Regions from separate parts of the Homo sapiens genome. Here regions 2, 3 and 4 are each reported to be linked to region 1. The links are microRNA targets in miRTarBase. Many come from high-throughput screens and were not tested one by one. Region 1 holds a microRNA gene; each other region holds the end of a gene's coding sequence.

Region 1 (4,476 bases):
AGCCATCAAACATCTTTTTACAACGTTACTAAAGATCAGCCACGTTTCCTACTAAAAGGTCAACATACACATAACAGCAAAACCAAGCCTCTGGCAAAACACCCCTACAAACGCTTCAGTACCCCAAAAGCTTGTCGTAAAGGGCGTCTCAGCAACCCCGGGAAGTAGCTTCACAGCTCTCTTCCTCCCTGGAGCACTGCAGCCTAGCAGCCGCCCAGACAGGCTTTCCCCACCCCTGCCCTGTCCAGAGTCTGACCACCAGCCCCGAACCTCACATACTTGGACAAGAAATCCTTTCACTTCTGAAGATTCTGCAACCCTGTCAAAGTGACCAATAGCTCCATTCAGAGAGGGGACGCAGGAGGGACCCACGCTCTCCTTGCAGTTCCTACTACTGCTGCCACCGCGCTGCTACAACTGCACGGCACGCGTCACCACAGGCCGGGGAGGAGCTCCCCTGCCCAGCACCCACCACGGCGGCTGGGGAGGGACGGGGAGCCCCAGACAAAAGCAGCAATGCTGGCCAGGCAATCTTTCCTGTCAAACTTGAGGGGCCCTGAGGAGTCGCAGAGACAGCAGACTAGACAGGAGCGTGAGAACTGCCAGGCGGAAGTGGCGTCGGAGCCCCAGGCATCCGCAGCATAGCCAGTATCGCCCCGAGACCCCTGCACGGAGCGAGAACATCTGCTGCCACCGCCCTCCCACTGCCCTCCCGAGGGGGCAGCAACCAGAGTAGCTAGGCGCTCCTTCCTTTAGGCACCAACGCAGCTCTGGAAGAGACAGTGACACACACGGTGCTGAAACCCTACTCCACAGCGTGGCTCTCAGCAAGGCTGCGCGCCGGGAGGACTCTCGCAGGATGCGCCTGACATCTCTCCCTGCCTGGTGGCAGCAGAGGAGCCCAAGCCTTCCATCCAGAGTTCCCGAGCCTCAAGGAGGGGGCGTCGCGCCCCCGTCCTCGCCTGGAGACTGAAGAGGCTCGAGCCCAGGGTCACCAAGGGGCAGAAAGGCTAAGTGGGGACACAGGCCACACGCCTAACTGCAGAACTGAGCAGGGGACAGCTGCTGCCACTCACAGCCCCAGGTACTGCCCTCAGCTCTGCAGACCCCATCGCCTGGCCCAGGGAGCCCCTGCGCTGAGCCTACCAACCCGGGCAGGGACGCATAGGGCGGGAGCAGGTAAGGACCACTCCACTAAGAGTCCTGGCTGAGCCACTCCGAAACAGACCAGCCCCAGGCACAGGCAGCCAGCGCGGACGTCAGGGACAGCGACAGGGACGCAGGCTATGCCGACTCCCTCTGGCTCACTCGCAGACAGCCACCCGGGCTGGCCCCGCACCTGGGTAGAGACTGCCCCTCGGCCTGCTCCAGCCACGGGCCTACGGGACAGATGACCTTAGCATTCCACCAGCGGAGAACTTCCTGGAACTGGCAGCTGGCGCTGCTGGGAGCCGCCCTTCCCTCCCGCCCCGTGCGGCCACTCACCTGGGGGCAGCTGGAAGTTCTGGATGTTGGTCGGGTTCTGAGGCGGCTGCGGCAAGCGGGGGGCCAGCACGGTGGGCGTCAGGGTGGCCCGAATCCCGCTGGTGGTGGCCGTGGGCGTCCGGGACAGGCTCTGGGTCACTGCGCCGGCCGCGCCTTTGGGCAGCCCGGTGGGGGTCCCGGGGGCGGGCGGCGGGACGGCGGCCGGGCTGGGCAGCGCCCCTTGCATAGTTGGCCCGATGACCATGCTGGCCGCCGTGCTGGCCGGGCCGCTGGCCGCCAGGGTCTGCGCCGCCGGGGGCGCCGCCTGCACCACCCTCTTGGGCGACTCGGCCTTGACCCCCGGCGCCGGCGCCGCAGCCGCCGCGCCGGGCCCGGGTTGGCCGCTGACCCCCGCGGGGCCCCCGGCGGCCGGGGCGGGGGCGGGGGCTGCCCCGGCGCTGCCCCCGTTCTGGGCGGCGGCGGGGGGCGGCACGGCGGGCGCGGCGGTCGGGGGTCCGGCGGGGTGGCCGGGCGGCCGGGCCAGAGTGGCGGGCGCGGGGGGTGGCGGGGGCGGGGCGGCGGCGGGGGCGGCGGGCGCGGGGGCGGCGGGGGGCGAGGGCGCGGCGGGCGCGGGGGGCGCGGCGGCGCCCACGAAGGGGGGCGTCTGGATGACAGTGCCGGGGGCGGCGGGCTTGGGCAGCGGCAGCAGCGCGGCGGGCCCGTTGTTGACCAGGCTGACAGCAGGTGCGGCGGCGTGGTGCGAGTTCAGCAGCGCGGCGCTCCCATTCAAAGTTTGCGCGGCGCCGGGGCCGGCGGGCTTGCCAGGGCCAGGGCCGGGGCCGGGGCCGGGGCCGGGCCCGGGGCCGGGGCCGGCGCGGGCGGCCAGCGCGGCGGGGCCGGCGGGCTTGGCGGGGCCGGCGGGGGCGGGCTCGGGCCCCGCGGCGACGGCGGCGGCGGCGGGCACCGGGGCGCAGGACCCCGCGCTGCCCTCGGGCGGCGGCCTCAGCTTCGCGGCGGGCGGCGCGGGCCCTGCGGGGACAAGGGGGCGGCGCGGTGAGGGGGGGCCCGGGCGCTGCGGCCCCCCGCCCCCCGGCCGCGCTCTACCTGCGGGGGGCGGCTCCGGCGCCGCTCCGGGCGCGCCCTCGGCGGGGGCGGCCGGCCCTGCGCCCGCGGCTCCGGCCGGGCTGCCGCTCACAACATGGTTCCCGAGCGCGCCGGCGGCCGCGGCCCGCACCTCGGGCGTGCGCGGCGCGAGGTGGTGGTGGTGGGCCGCGCTGGCCGCCAGCTGCGACTCCAGCGAGCCCACCAGGTCGCTCACCACTTTCTCGTCCACCTCGCTGTTGAAGAAGACCTCGTCCAGCAGATCCGAGCCCGCCGCCATCTTTTTTCCTCGGCCGCCGCCGCCGCCGCCGCTCGGGCCGAGCGCGCCTGGGCGAGGAGGAGGTTCCGACTGGGGCGGGCGCTGGGCGGGCGGGGGGCGGCGCGCGGCCGGCGGGGGGCGGGGGCGCGCGGCCGGGGGGCGGGGGAGCGGGGGTGGCGGCCCTGCGCAGGCGCGGAGACCGCGGGCGCCCGGCGATTGGCTGCGGCGCGCGCTTAAAAGGCGCGGCCAATGGCTGCGAGCGCTAGAGGCCGGGGCGCGGGCGGTCGGCCGGGGTGCGGCAGCAGCGGCGGGAAGCGCGGGGGCTGGAGCTCAGGGGCGCGGGCGCCGGGGCGGTGGCGGACGGGGAGGGGGCCGCCGGGCGGGGCGCGGGATGCGGGAACGGTGCGCTGGGCCGGGCCGAGGCGGGCGCGGGGCGGCGACGGGGCCTCGCTCTTTGTCTCGGCTCGCTCCAAAATGGCTGCGGCGGCGCTGACGGGAGCGCCGGGCGGGCGCCGTGCGCGGTGGCAGCGGCGGCGCAGGGCCCGTCCGAGGCCCGGGGAACAGCGCGCGGGGATGCCGGGGCGCCGCCGGGCGGCGCGCAGGCCCTGGAGTGGATGGGCCTGGGAGGCGGGCGGGAACGGGGAGGGGACTGTCGCAGCGCGCCCTGGGGACGGGGACCGGCGCCCGGCCCCTCCAAGCCGCCGCGGGGAAGCTGGGTCCGCCTCTGGCTCAGCCGGTCCCGGGCGGTGGGGAGGGGTCCTGCGCGCACGGCTCTTCTCGCCCTCCAATCGTGACCACCCCTGGCCCTTCCCTCCATTTTTAATCAATAAACCCAGCCGCCCCGGGCTGACTGTCCCCGCACCCAGCTGCCTTGGAGACAGGAGTGTCGTATAAGCCCGTAGGTAAGAGCACGGTGCTTGCCAGGCGCCAAACGAAGTTCCCGAGCCTGAAGCCGGCACGTCTGGAAGTAGCTTTTTTTACCTTCTGCTGGGGGAGGGGAGTAAGTTACCTAAAGTGTTCCCAAGCACCTTCTCTCTAGAAATACTTCAGTAAAAGTTCCAGTCCCCTCTTTCTGCGTGTTTTATTTTCCAACCAAAAGATGGTGTTATTGGACATTTCTAGTGGTTTTCCTTTCTCTCATTTCTTCCTAAGAGCCCAGAATAGGTTTCAGAGAGACGCTTCCTTGCCTCGGACCTCACTGGGGCCAAGAGGCCACAGGGTCAGTCTTCGCAGCTGAAGACAGCGCCGCAATAAGCAGAGACCTCGGGACGATGAATGACGTTGCTGACAAAGAAAATGATTTTTTTAATTGCTTTAACAAAGGAGACTGCTAGTCTCGAAAGCAGACCCGAACTGGACCCTTGTGCCTGTTCGAACTGTAGCCTTGCAAAGGAATGGACTTACTGATAACTGGAATACGGGACTTCACCCCAGGCTTGTTTCTCGACAGCAGCAGCAGCCAATGAGCATTGAGGACGGAGCCTAGGAGAGGTGCCTCCCCTATAGGGGAACAGTGTTTGGGGGAAATCACTGCAAACGTACAGCTGGAGTTTTGTACCTGAACTTTGGCTCCCAGAAGGCAGGAAAGGAAATGAATGAAGCAAGCTGAGTATGGCGGGGAGGGCCCCTGTGGGTACACCTACGGAGCACCT
Region 2 (4,476 bases), not on the chromosome of region 1:
CTCTGTGGGCAGAGCTTCCGAGGCTGGGTGGCCCTGGTTCTGCATCTGCGGGCCCATTCAGCTGCAAAGCGGCCCATCGCTTGTCCCAAATGCGAGAGACGCTTCTGGCGACGAAAGCAGCTTCGAGCTCATCTGCGGCGGTGCCACCCTCCCGCCCCGGAGGCCCGGCCCTTCATATGCGGCAACTGTGGCCGGAGCTTTGCCCAGTGGGACCAGCTAGTTGCCCACAAGCGGGTGCACGTAGCTGAGGCCCTGGAGGAGGCCGCAGCCAAGGCTCTGGGGCCCCGGCCCAGGGGCCGCCCCGCGGTGACCGCCCCCCGGCCCGGTGGAGATGCCGTCGACCGCCCCTTCCAGTGTGCCTGTTGTGGCAAGCGCTTCCGGCACAAGCCCAACTTGATCGCTCACCGCCGCGTGCACACGGGCGAGCGGCCCCACCAGTGCCCCGAGTGCGGGAAGCGCTTTACCAATAAGCCCTATCTGACTTCGCACCGGCGCATCCACACCGGCGAGAAGCCCTACCCGTGCAAAGAGTGCGGCCGCCGCTTCCGGCACAAACCCAACCTGCTGTCTCACAGCAAGATTCACAAGCGATCCGAGGGGTCGGCCCAGGCCGCCCCCGGCCCGGGGAGCCCCCAGCTGCCAGCCGGCCCCCAGGAGTCCGCGGCCGAGCCCACCCCGGCGGTACCTCTGAAACCGGCCCAGGAGCCGCCGCCAGGGGCCCCGCCAGAGCACCCGCAGGACCCGATCGAAGCCCCCCCCTCCCTCTACAGCTGCGACGACTGCGGCAGGAGCTTCCGGCTGGAGCGCTTCCTGCGGGCCCACCAGCGGCAGCACACCGGGGAGCGGCCCTTCACCTGCGCCGAGTGCGGGAAGAACTTCGGCAAGAAGACGCACCTGGTGGCGCACTCGCGCGTGCACTCCGGCGAGCGGCCCTTCGCCTGCGAGGAGTGCGGCCGCCGCTTCTCCCAGGGCAGCCATCTGGCGGCGCATCGGCGCGACCACGCCCCCGATCGGCCCTTCGTGTGTCCCGACTGCGGCAAGGCCTTCCGCCACAAACCCTACCTGGCGGCGCACCGGCGCATCCACACCGGCGAGAAGCCCTACGTCTGCCCCGACTGCGGCAAAGCCTTCAGCCAGAAGTCCAACCTGGTGTCGCACCGGCGCATCCACACGGGCGAGCGGCCCTACGCCTGTCCCGACTGCGACCGCAGCTTCAGCCAGAAGTCCAACCTCATCACCCACCGCAAGAGCCACATCCGGGACGGCGCCTTCTGCTGTGCCATCTGTGGCCAGACCTTCGACGACGAGGAGAGACTCCTGGCCCACCAGAAGAAGCACGATGTCTGAGACGGTGGGCGGGGCCGTGTTGGCTGAGAGAGGGCTGGGGTCCTTCGTGGTGGGAGTCGCAGTGGGCTGGGGGTGCCTGCCTAGTGCTGGAGTAGGGGACAATGGGAATCCTAGAGGGGATGGAAGACGCGGGGAGTGAGCTGGGTGGGCCCTGCTAGCGAGAGAGGTCAACCCCGGTGGCCAGGGAACCCACTTCCAAGCGCAGGGACGCCGGCCTCCAGCTGGTGTGTGCTAAGGCTCCGTCCTGACTGCCCTGTGCCCTGGAAAAGCAGCAATAGCATCCGCCCCTTAGAGCCCTCTGGCTAGAGGAGCCACCAGTGGAAAGGAAGACCCTCCATCCTCTGGTATTAACGCCTTAATGCCCCTGTCTTTTACTGTAAGTTACTTAAGATCATTTTTGGAAGCAGGCGTGGTAGAGTCCTGTAAATGAATGCTCTGGGCTAGATACAGCTTGGAGAACCTGCTGGCCTTGTTAGACAGCACTTGGGCCTTTGCCAGCAGCAAGAGGTGAAGCGAAGCCACTCTTACCTCTCCCTTCCCCTCCCACCTGCCCCCTGCGTAGGCACCCAGACTTGGAGAGACCCGTCTGCTGTTAATACTTCCATCCTCTTCCTTCCCAAAGAGCAGATCCCAAGGCATTTACTCCTTGGTCTGTCTCGCTTTATCTGTCGCCCCTCCCAGCGCTGAGAGCCTCCCCTGGCTGTCAGCAGCACTGTGTCCAGGCTCTTGTCTGAACACCGCAGCCCCTCCTTCGCTCCTTCCAGAGCTCAGCATGTCACGGCAAGGACTGCCGCATTGGTGATGGAGGGCCAGCTGAGGGGAAGTTGCTGGTGAGTTTCCTTTTCTCCATTTCTAGCATATGGACACCTGGCCTCTGCTTGAGCACTTAGGTGACAGGAACTTCCGCACCTCCTGAGGCCCTGGATGATTCTAATTGTTAGAAATTCTAATTGTTAGAAATCCTTCCTTATAATGAATGAATTCTGCTTTCCTATAATTTCTACCTATTGGGCCTTGTTCTGTTCTCTGGAACTAAACAGAACAACCATTTACCCCTCCTTTTCAAACTAGAGAATAAAGATTTGGTTTTAGAACTGGTGGCTGGGGAGTGTTACTTTTTCTGGGGGAGCTGCGACATGTCAGGAGGAGCAGCATGCTCTCCTCCCTAGAAGGACGGGGGGCTGTGGGTGGGGCTCTGGCCACAGGCCACATGCCCAGCTTGCTGAGCTCTGGCCCCCTGCCTCAGTTCTTCCCTGAGCATACCCAGGCAGTTGGGCTAATTCTCTGGGTGGTGGGCCGAAGCTCCAGAGAACTGTGGTGGGTGGAATGCTCTCAGCTTGGTCCCAAGATTTATGTTCTTGGTCACTTGCCCTCCTAGATGGGCCCAGCAACACCTAATCTTTCTCACCACCTGGGCCTTTATGAAACTACAGCAAGCACTATGAGCTCTTTTGAGGGGTGCTGGGTGTTAAACGGACTTTGGTTATACTTGGACTGTGCCTCCAGTAGTCCTTCAGAGGTTGGACAGATGAAGGAGCCTCTGGGAGGGGAGGCTGTTCCCTGCAGCTAAGACAGCACTCAGCTTCCACACTCCACACACCAGGGTTTCAGCCTTCTTTGAGGTTGTTGTCAAACCCAGCCTGGGTCCACTTGCCCAGTGTTTGCAAAGCCTAACACCGACAGTGAGATTTGCAGCCAGAGAAAGTAAGGCGTTTATTGCAGAGCACCAGGCGAGGAGAATGGGCAGCTAAGGCTCAAACTCCCTGATGGCTTTTAAGCAAGGGTTTTTAAGGCAGGGGTGGGGAGGTTTCAAAGGGAGTTAGGGGCTGAGGAATTTCTGGAACTTCCTTATCCATTTTCTGGTTCCAGTCTGTCTGAGGTCTACGTGCTGGCATTGTCACGTGGTGACATTGGTGGGGGTCCTGGCTCCTGAAAAACAACTCAAGGATATATGTCAAGATGTTATCTTTAGGCCAGGCATGGTGGCTCATGCCTGTAATCCCGGCACTTTGGGAGGCCGAGGTGGGTGGATCACCTGAGGTCAGGAGTTCAAGACCAGCCTGGCCAACATGGTGAAACCCCATCTCTACTAAAAATACAAAATTAGCTGGGTGTGGTGGCGGGCCCCTGTAGTCCCAGCTACTAGGGAGGCTGAAGCAGGAGAATTGCTTGAACCTGGGAGGCGGAGGTTGCAATGAGCTGAGATCGTGCCACTGCATTCCAGCCTGGGCAACAGAGTAAGACTTTGTCTCAAAACAAACAAACAACCCAAAAAACAAAACAAACAAAAAGATGTTATCTTTAGTTTCTATGAGGAAGCTAACATTCTGTGACTACTACTTGAGTGACTATTGTTTAAGCTATTATTACTTTCTTGCTTAGCGGGTTATTCATTCATTTCCCCAATTCATGGTTGTAGAGCTAGCTAGGTGCCTGGAATTTCCCTGGGAGGGACTCACATTTTTGTTTATTCTCATGCTTTTCAAGTGATGGGCAGAACCCAGCAGGCTCCTAAGTGGAGTCTCTGAGGCTGGGCGTGGTGGCTCACGCCTGTAATCCCAGCACTTTGGGAGGCCGAGGCAGGTGGATCACCTGAGGTTAGGAGTTTGAGACCAGCCTGACCAACATGGAGAAACCCTGTCTCTACTAAAAATACAAAATTAGCCGGGCATGGTGGTGCATGCCTGTAATCCCAGCTACTCGGCAGGCTGAGGCAGGAGAATCACTTGAACCCAGGAGGCAGAAGTTGCAGTGAGCCGAGATCGCGCCATGGCACCCCAGCCTGGGCAACAACTCTGTCTCAAAAAATAAAAATAAAAAAAAATTAAAAAAGAGGGTCTCTGCTCCATCTCAAGGTCAGGTCAGACTTTTCAGGTGCTAGTTGCTAGGCAGGAAAGGGGGCTGATTTGATTCTGTCCTACAGTGTCCCTGGCCGGCCTGCTGTAGGACTCCAGATTTCTGTGAGCAGTCACTCTGTATGCGTCCCTGAATTGGTGGTTTCATACAAATTTGAGTACCTCTTTTTACCAGGCATTAATAGTTCTTTTCTTGCCTGTGTTAGCAATTTCTGCATATATCTCCAGCATTTAGCACAGAGCACATAAGAATAACCACAATTTGTTGACGTGA
Region 3 (4,476 bases), not on the chromosome of region 1:
GGAGAATGCTTTCTTATGTAGTGATTGAAATTCTTGTATCATTACAAACTGTGTTTTTGGTAAGTTTGCATCCCTAAGAAACTCTTTTCAGTAACGATTTCCACAGTCCTTCATATGATCTTGAAATATGATGCCTACATCTTTGTTTACCTGCCCAGATATTGATCAGTATGGTAACTCTGCTCCAGTGGTTGCTTGTGTGTTTCAATCACGCATGATTCTTATTGGCCACATTGGGGCAGGAGGCGGCACATTAGAGGGAAGAAAAGGAGCACCCAAAGGCTGATCAGAAGAAGCCAAACCAGCCTAGTTGGTGGGGAAGTTAGTAAAGGTGGCAACAAGTTATATATGGGCATAAAAAAAAAAAGACAATAAGCCCTTGAGATACTGTGTAAGCCTAAATGATGCAAATTATGGAGCACGATGGAAGGAAAAATACAAGTGGGAAGATTATCAAGAAGCCTCAAAATGAGTCAAATCAGATTCATGGCTGAACCACTCTAAAAATATTTACTTGACGTTGAAATTTAGTACTGACAGCTGAAGTTGAAAAATCTTTGTTATATTTCTGTTTTGTGTTAAAATGAAGATGACACCCAAGCTATCACTTTGTTCCCTTGGAATCCTAGGGTACACATGCCTTGTCACGTCAGAATGATTGATTTTTCCTTTGGCTTTCTCACTACAGGAAATACCAGAAATAGCCCACCACCCTACGGGTTTCATCTCTCACCAGAAGAAATGAGGAGACAGCGGCTTCACAGATTCGATAGCCAGTGAGGTGGCATCTTGGGAAGACATGGCCTATTCGTGTAATTATTGCCCATTTGGCTCATTCCCCAAGCCCCTAATTCATTTTAATTCATTTTAAACAAAAGCAGAGTACACCGGTATTGCTCCAGATCGCTCACATCACCTGGGACAGTCCCATGGCCCCTATGAGTCAACTCACAGCTTGCGGGGAGTGGGCCTTCTCCTGGCCTTGTTCTTGCTCATAAACAGGTCACTTCCTCCATGAAGAGACCAGTTTCCACGCTCCCATCTCTCACTGCTGACTCAGCGATGCCTCTGCCTCGGTCTGCTTTTGAAGACTGTGACCTTCACCAGGAGGTTTTACTTACACCAGTCGGGAAGATTAGTCCCTCATTCTGCCTGGAGTGCCCCGTGTTTGACTTGGCAGCGGGTGTGGAGCCATCCCCGCGTCCTCCTGGCGCATTGCCACTGTGGCTGTCCAGGAACAGGATGTGGCTGCCTTGGCCGAATGTTGTCCTACTCTCCCCAACCCCGGCGCCTCAGCTCCTCAGCTCCTCGGGCCCCTGCGTCTGGCTGGTGTTTGCAGGGCTTTCGCTCTGCTCTGGTATTGCTCTGCCTTTATAGAAAGTCTTATTGAAGAAGTGTAAGAAAGACCTAAGGTGGGGAAGACTCCTACACACACCATTAGTATCAGTGACACCAGCAATGTAGGTTCCCAGCCCCTTCCCAGTGGCAGCTTGTGTGTCCAGGAGATAGGACATCATTTAACGCATCAGCAAAGTAGCAGCAGATGCCACATACAGAGTAGAGCGAAGGCATTTGGTGGATCGGTCACTAGAGATCTATCTTGCAGAAAGTATGTTTTTCCTCATAAAAGTGCCTCTTAATTGGCCATTGTACCAGCCACTTGTCCTAGCCAAATGTCCAAAACACGCCCTTGGGCCCCGCCACGTTACAATCCACAGATTGTCTGTCTGAGTCGTTTAAGGCATTTCCTGGTGCTTGTGTTCCATGAATAAAAGGACAAAGTCAGAAGATCACTGATGTCTTACTGTCAACAGAGATATTTTAAAAGAGAGAAGCAGGAAAAGATCTTCCTTTTTTGATCTACAACTTATATAGTTTTCTGATTATGCACATAATAGATATGCCTTCCAGATGCATAAGGCAAACATCTGGAAAGAAATATACCCAAATCTTAGCAGGGGTTATCTTTGGGAGTGGAGTACATGGGATTTTGCTTTCTTCATTTTTATAATTTTATATTACTGTCTTGGAAGATGTGTTTATGTGTGTGTGTTACTTTTACAATCAGGAAAACATATTTAATAACATATAGTCAAGAAAACAGACTTAAAAATAAATACTATGTGTCCATTGAGAAAATTCACAATATAAACAGAAATACAAATAAATACATACACAATTTTAAAGTCACCTGTAGCCCTACCCTTAGAGGTACCCAGGGTTAACATTTTGGTGGTATTGTCTTATCAATTTTTCCGTTGATACATTCAGCAAATTTGGAGCACATTGACCATGGAGTTTTGTGTCCAAATCCAATCTGAATTTACCTGGAAGAGGCCTTGACACCTGCATGGAAATGAGCTAAGAAAACCACTGGAGCCTTGGGAGCTCTTTGGCCTCCTGGCTGGCCCAGTAATATCTGAGCTCCTTTGGTTAATTTATAACTGATATAAAACTACATCTTCTTTATAATATAAATTGTACCTGTGAGTCTAGAAGCTTTAAATGTGTTTAAATTAAAATATTCAAGCTAAATGTTACTGCTCTCTCCCAAATTCTGTAAGTTTGACTCCCGTTACCCCAATTAGAAGTAACTTCTTTGTTTCATGCCACTTTTATAGCATTTGGTAATTCTGCTATAACACATCTTGCCCCTATTATTAACTGTGCACAGCTACACAAAGGTGTGCCTTCTACGTGGGAACATGGATTGTGAATGACTCTGTAATGAGGCCTGAGTCTTAGTTATCTTTCCACTCACTCCCCGTCTCCCCTTTCCAACCCCAAAGGCTCACGATAGGGGCTCACTAAATGTCAGTGTTTCACCAAAGTATTTTTTCCATTGTATTAAGAGTCCAGTCACTGTATATGGAAGTATTTTATTTTTTATTTTTTTATATCACTTGAGTCCACTAGTAGTACTTCCTTGCTCTGTTTGACTTGTCAGATACAAAGACACGGGATTAGATTTTGGGTGGTAAAATTGTGATACGCATGGCTGTTGATGGAGTGGAACATCTTAGTGATGTGAGAAAGGTCATTTTAGTTATAAATGTAAACCAATTACTTTAGCACAACAATAAAGATGTTCTGGAAATTATTATAATTATTTTAGTTAATGGACTTGCCTGTAACAAGTGCTTATGTTTGGAATGTCCATTTTATTTTATTTTCCTCTACAATAAGGAATCCCTAAAGTTATGCCAACAAACTGGAATTGGATTGAGAAAGACAAAAGCAAGTGAGCAAGTGTATTAGACTAATTATCTCTAGTAGGGAATAAGCACTTAGAGCTAATTTTTTAATTTGGTTTATTTATTAGTAGCTCCCTGATTGTCTGTTAAGCCCCTGGTTCCCACAGTTTGGTGTGGTCAGTCAACTTAAGCGACCTTTTAATGCAGAATCTTTACTTGGTTCTGAAGAGGAGGCAGTAGTTAAAATTGCTTCCTCTTAATGACTCTGAATGTATTGCCTGTGATTCCAAAGTTGTACATAATTGTTCAGACCTCCTCCATCCTTTTAAATTGCCTGCTGCAGTAAATAACTAGTTTGAGTAGAACTAGATCCTGTCTATCTATTTGGCACATGTTCTGCTGCCTGGGGAGTAAGCAAGCTAAAGGGATGAGAAAGACCACCTCCCCCTACCCTGGAAATTGCACTGCAAGGCAGGGCGAGAATGGGGTAGCTGGCAGACCTGGCCTCCTTGTTCCCAGTCTTAGTTTTTCTTGAGAGATTCAGTATTCAGTAAAGAATAGCATTCAATTAGTCAAAAAATATATATATAACTTCTTCCTTTCCCTTCCCATGAATCATTGCAGTCATTCCCTAAGTTTCTTCTCTTTTTTTTTCATGGCTGCTAGTATTTTATTTTAGAATCACAGACTCTCAGCTTAGAGAGTCACAGTATCTCAATTATTTGCTCTGTTCAATACTTAACAATACCTCCTCACTCAATTCTACATAACTCCAGCTTAGTCTTCCAAAATTCACTTTCATGATGCCACTCAGCATCTCAAATACCTTTCATTGGCTCTCTGCTGCCAAAGGATAAAGGTCAAAGTCATTAGCCTCAACAGTGGGCTTCAACCAGCCTTTGGACCTCAGCCCCATTTATCCATCACAGAGGCTGGTAACTAGTCTCACTGCTCAGGCTGTGAGTGTTCCTGATCTTGTGACATTCTGTGCTGTGCTTTTACATGGAACAGCTCTTTCCTCTCTCTTGGCCCATTCAGATCCTCCTCATCCAGCCCCCATCTGAATCCTGTAACAGACACAACCACATCTACACAGTTTCCACATACCACTTGGAATTGCTGGTTATGCTGCAATGAGAGAATGTCTTTGTCTTTAAATTGTAAGCTTCATGAGGGCAGGGACCATCTGTTTCTCTGTCTCTCCTCACAGTGCCTTGAGCAGTACGTTGTCTGGAATGTCAGAACCAATAAATACTTGTGGATTGAAACAAAAAGAGAAGCT
Region 4 (4,476 bases), not on the chromosome of region 1:
GGCAGCCCCGCGTTGCGGGTTCCGGGCGCTGCGCGGAGCCCAAGGCTGCATGGCAGTGTGCAGCGCCCGCCAGTCGGGCTGGTGGGTTGTGCACTCCGTCGGCAGCTGCAGAAAGGTGGGAGTGCAGGTCTTGCCTTTCCTCACCGGGCGGTTGGCTTCCAGCACCGAGGCTGACCTATCGTGGCAAGTTTGCGGCCCCCGCAGATCCCCAGTGGAGAAAGAGGGCTCTTCCGATGCGATCGAGTGTGCGCCTCCCCGCAAAGCAATGCAGACCCTAAATCACTCAAGGCCTGGAGCTCCAGTCTCAAAGGTGGCAGAAAAGGCCAGACCTAACTCGAGCACCTACTGCCTTCTGCTTGCCCCGCAGAGCCTTCAGGGACTGACTGGGACGCCCCTGGTGGCGGGCAGTCCCATCCGCCATGAGAACGCCGTGCAGGGCAGCGCAGTGGAGGTGCAGACGTACCAGCCGCCGTGGAAGGCGCTCAGCGAGTTTGCCCTCCAGAGCGACCTGGACCAACCCGCCTTCCAACAGCTGGTGAGGCCCTGCCCTACCCGCCCCGACCTCGGGACTCTGCGGGTTGGGGATTTAGCCACTTAGCCTGGCAGAGAGGGGAGGGGGTGGCCTTGGGCTGAGGGGCTGGGTACAGCCCTAGGCGGTGGGGGAGGGGGAACAGTGGCGGGCTCTGAAACCTCACCTCGGCCCATTACGCGCCCTAAACCAGGTCTCCCTGGATTAAAGTGCTCACAAGAGAGGTCGCAGGATTAACCAACCCGCTCCCCCGCCCTAATCCCCCCCTCGTGCGCCTGGGGACCTGGCCTCCTTCTCCGCAGGGCTTGCTCTCAGCTGGCGGCCGGTCCCCAAGGGACACTTTCCGACTCGGAGCACGCGGCCCTGGAGCACCAGCTCGCGTGCCTCTTCACCTGCCTCTTCCCGGTGTTTCCGCCGCCCCAGGTCTCCTTCTCCGAGTCCGGCTCCCTAGGCAACTCCTCCGGCAGCGACGTGACCTCCCTGTCCTCGCAGCTCCCGGACACCCCCAACAGTATGGTGCCGAGTCCCGTGGAGACGTGAGGGGGACCCCTCCCTGCCAGCCCGCGGACCTCGCATGCTCCCTGCATGAGACTCACCCATGCTCAGGCCATTCCAGTTCCGAAAGCTCTCTCGCCTTCGTAATTATTCTATTGTTATTTATGAGAGAGTACCGAGAGACACGGTCTGGACAGCCCAAGGCGCCAGGATGCAACCTGCTTTCACCAGACTGCAGACCCCTGCTCCGAGGACTCTTAGTTTTTCAAAACCAGAATCTGGGACTTACCAGGGTTAGCTCTGCCCTCTCCTCTCCTCTCTACGTGGCCGCCGCTCTGTCTCTCCACGCCCCACCTGTGTCCCCATCTCGGCCGGCCCGGAGCTCGCCCACGCGGACCCCCGCCCTGCCCCAGCTCAGCGCTCCCTGGCGGCTTCGCCCGGGCTCCTAGCGGGGAAAAGGAAGGGGATAACTCAGAGGAACAGACACTCAAACTCCCAAAGCGCATGATTGCTGGGAAACAGTAGAAACCAGACTTGCCTTGAAAGTGTTTAAGTTATTCGACGGAGGACAGAGTATGTGAGCCTTTGCCGAACAAACAAACGTAAGTTATTGTTATTTATTGTGAGAACAGCCAGTTCATAGTGGGACTTGTATTTTGATCTTAATAAAAAATAATAACCCGGGGCGACGCCACTCCTCTGTGCTGTTGGCGCGGCGGGAGGGCCGGCGGAGGCCAGTTCAGGGGTCAGGCTGGCGTCGGCTGCCGGGGCTCCGCGTGCTGCGGGCGGGGCGGGCCCGGTGGGGATTGGGCGCGGCCGAGGGGGTGGGGCTGGGCGCATGCGCGCTGAGGGCCCTCCCAGAAGCAGGAGCGCCCCATTGGCGACCCCTGGGCACCTGGCGGCCCAGGCCCGCGGGCAGGAGGCGGGACCCGTTTGGGCGGGAAACCTGCGGCACTTGTGGCGGTTGAGCGGCGGACTCCGGCCTAGGGTTATGCGGGCGAGGGCGCGCCCCGCTCCCGGAACCAGCCTTGGCCTGGCGCCTGCCGAGCCCCGAGCCCCACTCTCGCTCGGCGCCGCGGGCCCTCCCGGCGCTTCCTTCCCCAGCGGTCCGCGGCCCTGGGTGAGGCTCGAAGCCCCGCGCGCTGCCCCTGGCCCTGCAGCACAGCAGTGAGGCCAACCCCGGCCAGAGCGGGCGGCCGTGACGGGCCGTGCCCCGCGCTGTCCCCGGAGTGGATGCGCGACGTGATCAATCCGCGGCATTTATTAATTCCACAGTCTAGACAGAGGCGGGGGCCGGGCGGCGGCTGCTTATCTGCGTTTGGCATCACCTGCAAGCGATACACCGAGGGGCCGCAACGAGCCCCCGCTAGGAGCGCGGCTGCCGGGAAAATAAGTCCACCCAGAACCAGTCTGGCGTGTCCTTGGTTTATTTTCTTTCCAGACCGAAGTGGAGGGGGTCGGGGGTGGCCCGGGTGGGAGGGAGCTGGGAATGGCCCCTGGATATGCCGTGCCCAGGTCACTTGGTGTGACATTTCAAACCCCTGCGACTTGTTTTCTTGAAAACTGGCTTTAGTGATCGCAGGAAATAACCGAGAGATACTGAATCTCCAGTAGGCCTCCGGGCAACCGCGCATACACAAAAACAAAAAACCCCAAAAGAAAGAAAGAAAAAAAACCCACGGAGGCTCAGGTTTTACTCTTTACAAATATTTAACCCTTTGGCAGCCTGGGACAGTTCTTTTCCAAGACCAGCCTTCACTTAGTGGACTGAGGGAGCTTCCCGACTACCAGTTAGTCCACCGCTGTTGTAAGAACATCTGGCGTTGAGTTGTCGTTTCCCTGTCCCTCGAGTTAAGCGACCCACAAGCATATCCTTCTTTGTCCAAGGTTTGTTTTGAAAGTGGGCAACGCCCTAACTGGGTAGGGGATAGTTGCCATCTTAGCTTAGGTAGGGGCTGGCAAGGAAAACGTGTCTGGGGGGCCCTGTAGTCTTCAGATAGAAAAGTAGGTGCCTTCTGTTAGCCATGGCTGCTTGGATGGCCAAAGGCCACTGTGGGTTTTTCAGCAGCGCTTTTAGCAGAATTCCTTCACACTGCCCCCACCCCACTTGCAGATGATGGAAGGCTTGCTGGCAATTACTGAAAGAAAATGGGAGGTGGGAAAATGGAGCTGCATTTATATTTTACTTCCTGAATGTCAAGGTGATGCTGGCACAAATATTAAAGGGAACATTCCCCTTCTTTGGGATATAGGAAATGCTGCTGCAAACTTAGAGATAAGGGAAGAGATATGCAGAGTTAATGAGGACCAGCTTTACCTCTCAAGTGCCCAGAAATGGCTTTAATAATCAGGTCTGGGTTCTTTGAGGCTTCCTTTCTTTAACTTAGACCATTCCTTCCCAACAGAAATACAGATTTCTCCTTTTACCTTCTGGCTGGCCATTAGATAGGGGGCTAAAACTTCGAATAAATCTCACTGTCAAAAACTTTTGATTTATCCAGAATATTTGGGTTTTCTCATTTTTTTTAAAAAGGAAATAACAGGTTATTGAATAAAGAATTTCATTAATGGTTAATTAGCTCTGAATTTTTGCTTTTGACAGATTGCAGCGTTTTAACGCTATGAATGGAAACGTCTACATTAGTTATCTCAACATCTAATTAGTTATCTCTTTCCTCATCATCCATGAATCAAAAATCAAATTCCTCTTTTTGTTATTTATATGATTGTGTCTGTCTTTTTTGAATATTGGGAAGTTACCTAGATAAAAGTGGTTATTGTGTGTTAAGATTCCTGCATCTCTCTGTATCACTGTACAAAACATTACAAGCTTTTCTCTTCCATAGTTGCTACCCACCCAAAGGGGTGCATCGTTTTCTATGTGGGTTTCCAGGGAAAGGATTCAACTCTGAAGCCTTATTACAGTGGTCCCTAGTGAGGTGTCACATCTACGCTTGGTTAGTTACATTAATAAATATCAGTTTTACGGGTTCCCAAGTCATCTTTAAACATCTTTTGTAATACAGTAGGGATTTCCCCATAAATTAAATTACCTGTAACAATGACAAGTGTTGTATTTTATACTTACTGAACTTTTAATATGAGATACCCAATTGCATAGTAAAAAATTCAATAAAAGAGGCCATAGGTGGAAAGTGGGAGTTATTTAGCTAGATTCACTTTAGAATACGATTTTCTCAGAAGACTTAACTATTAATTTGGATAGCTCTATGCAATTGAGGAAGGAAAGGGATTCCCAGAGATAGACAGTTTATGGCTATAAGTTTTTACACAAAATTTAATACATATTGAAAGACTGCATAATTCTGGGAAATTCAGAGTCCCTGTGGCAGTATTCCCAACAAACTTTAATATTTAATGGATTGTGGAACAGAAATCAGGCTTTGTGTTTTGAATATGGAATAACAAAGCTCAATTTTGTCAGAGCTGCC

Evidence for each region. The annotated mature microRNA hsa-miR-3195 reads CGCGCCGGGCCCGGGUU and lies in region 1 at 1,847-1,863, shown strand. An mRNA with a match to its seed (bases 2 to 7 or 8) in the 3' UTR can be bound and repressed. Matches are read on the target gene's strand: a 7mer-m8 pairs with bases 2 to 8, a 7mer-A1 pairs with bases 2 to 7 and ends in A, and an 8mer does both.
Region 2: the mRNA of REPIN1 is a reported target of hsa-miR-3195. The part of its 3' UTR that is shown has no 7-base or 8-base seed match.
Region 3: the mRNA of RHBDD1 is a reported target of hsa-miR-3195. Seed matches in the 3' UTR shown: 7mer-m8 at 1,285-1,291.
Region 4: miRTarBase lists ISL2 as a target of hsa-miR-3195. The part of its 3' UTR that is shown has no 7-base or 8-base seed match.

The regions. Positions count from the first base shown.
Region 1 is chr20:62,062,966-62,067,441 of GRCh38, forward strand. It overlaps MIR3195 (microRNA 3195), which reads left to right and starts at 1,837; the gene lies at 1,837-1,920. It overlaps TAF4 (TATA-box binding protein associated factor 4), which reads right to left and starts at 2,916. Exons shown (of 15, transcript NM_003185.4): 1 at 1,486-2,916. The coding sequence starts at 2,845. It overlaps LOC105372705 (a long non-coding RNA gene), which reads left to right and starts at 3,489. Exons shown (of 2, transcript XR_936960.3): 1 at 3,489-3,726; 2 at 3,977-4,476. RefSeq lists enhancers at 606-1,119, 1,120-1,634, 1,635-2,148, 2,149-2,663, 3,692-4,205 and silencers at 2,597-2,686, 2,947-3,056, 3,317-3,696.
Region 2 is chr7:150,371,599-150,376,074 of GRCh38, forward strand. It overlaps REPIN1 (replication initiator 1), which reads left to right. Exons shown (of 3, transcript NM_001099695.2): 3 at 1-2,441. The coding sequence ends at 1,347. It overlaps REPIN1-AS1 (REPIN1 antisense RNA 1), which reads right to left and starts at 1,345. Exons shown (of 4, transcript NR_183429.1): 1 at 1,243-1,345. RefSeq lists enhancers at 1,740-1,859, 1,920-2,069.
Region 3 is chr2:226,994,743-226,999,218 of GRCh38, forward strand. It overlaps RHBDD1 (rhomboid domain containing 1), which reads left to right. Exons shown (of 9, transcript NM_001167608.3): 9 at 689-4,468. The coding sequence ends at 780. It also overlaps a transcript of COL4A4 not described here. Among named protein-coding and RNA genes, the nearest start is that of RHBDD1, 160 kb to the left of the region's middle. RefSeq lists enhancers at 336-1,535, 715-1,216.
Region 4 is chr15:76,340,767-76,345,242 of GRCh38, forward strand. ISL2 (ISL LIM homeobox 2) reads left to right here. Exons shown (of 6, transcript NM_145805.3): 5 at 368-535; 6 at 953-1,709. The coding sequence ends at 1,069. LOC124903532 reads right to left here and starts at 2,658. Exons shown (of 1, transcript XM_047433420.1): 1 at 1,627-2,658. The coding sequence starts at 2,658. The coding sequence ends at 2,014. RefSeq lists an enhancer at 1-127.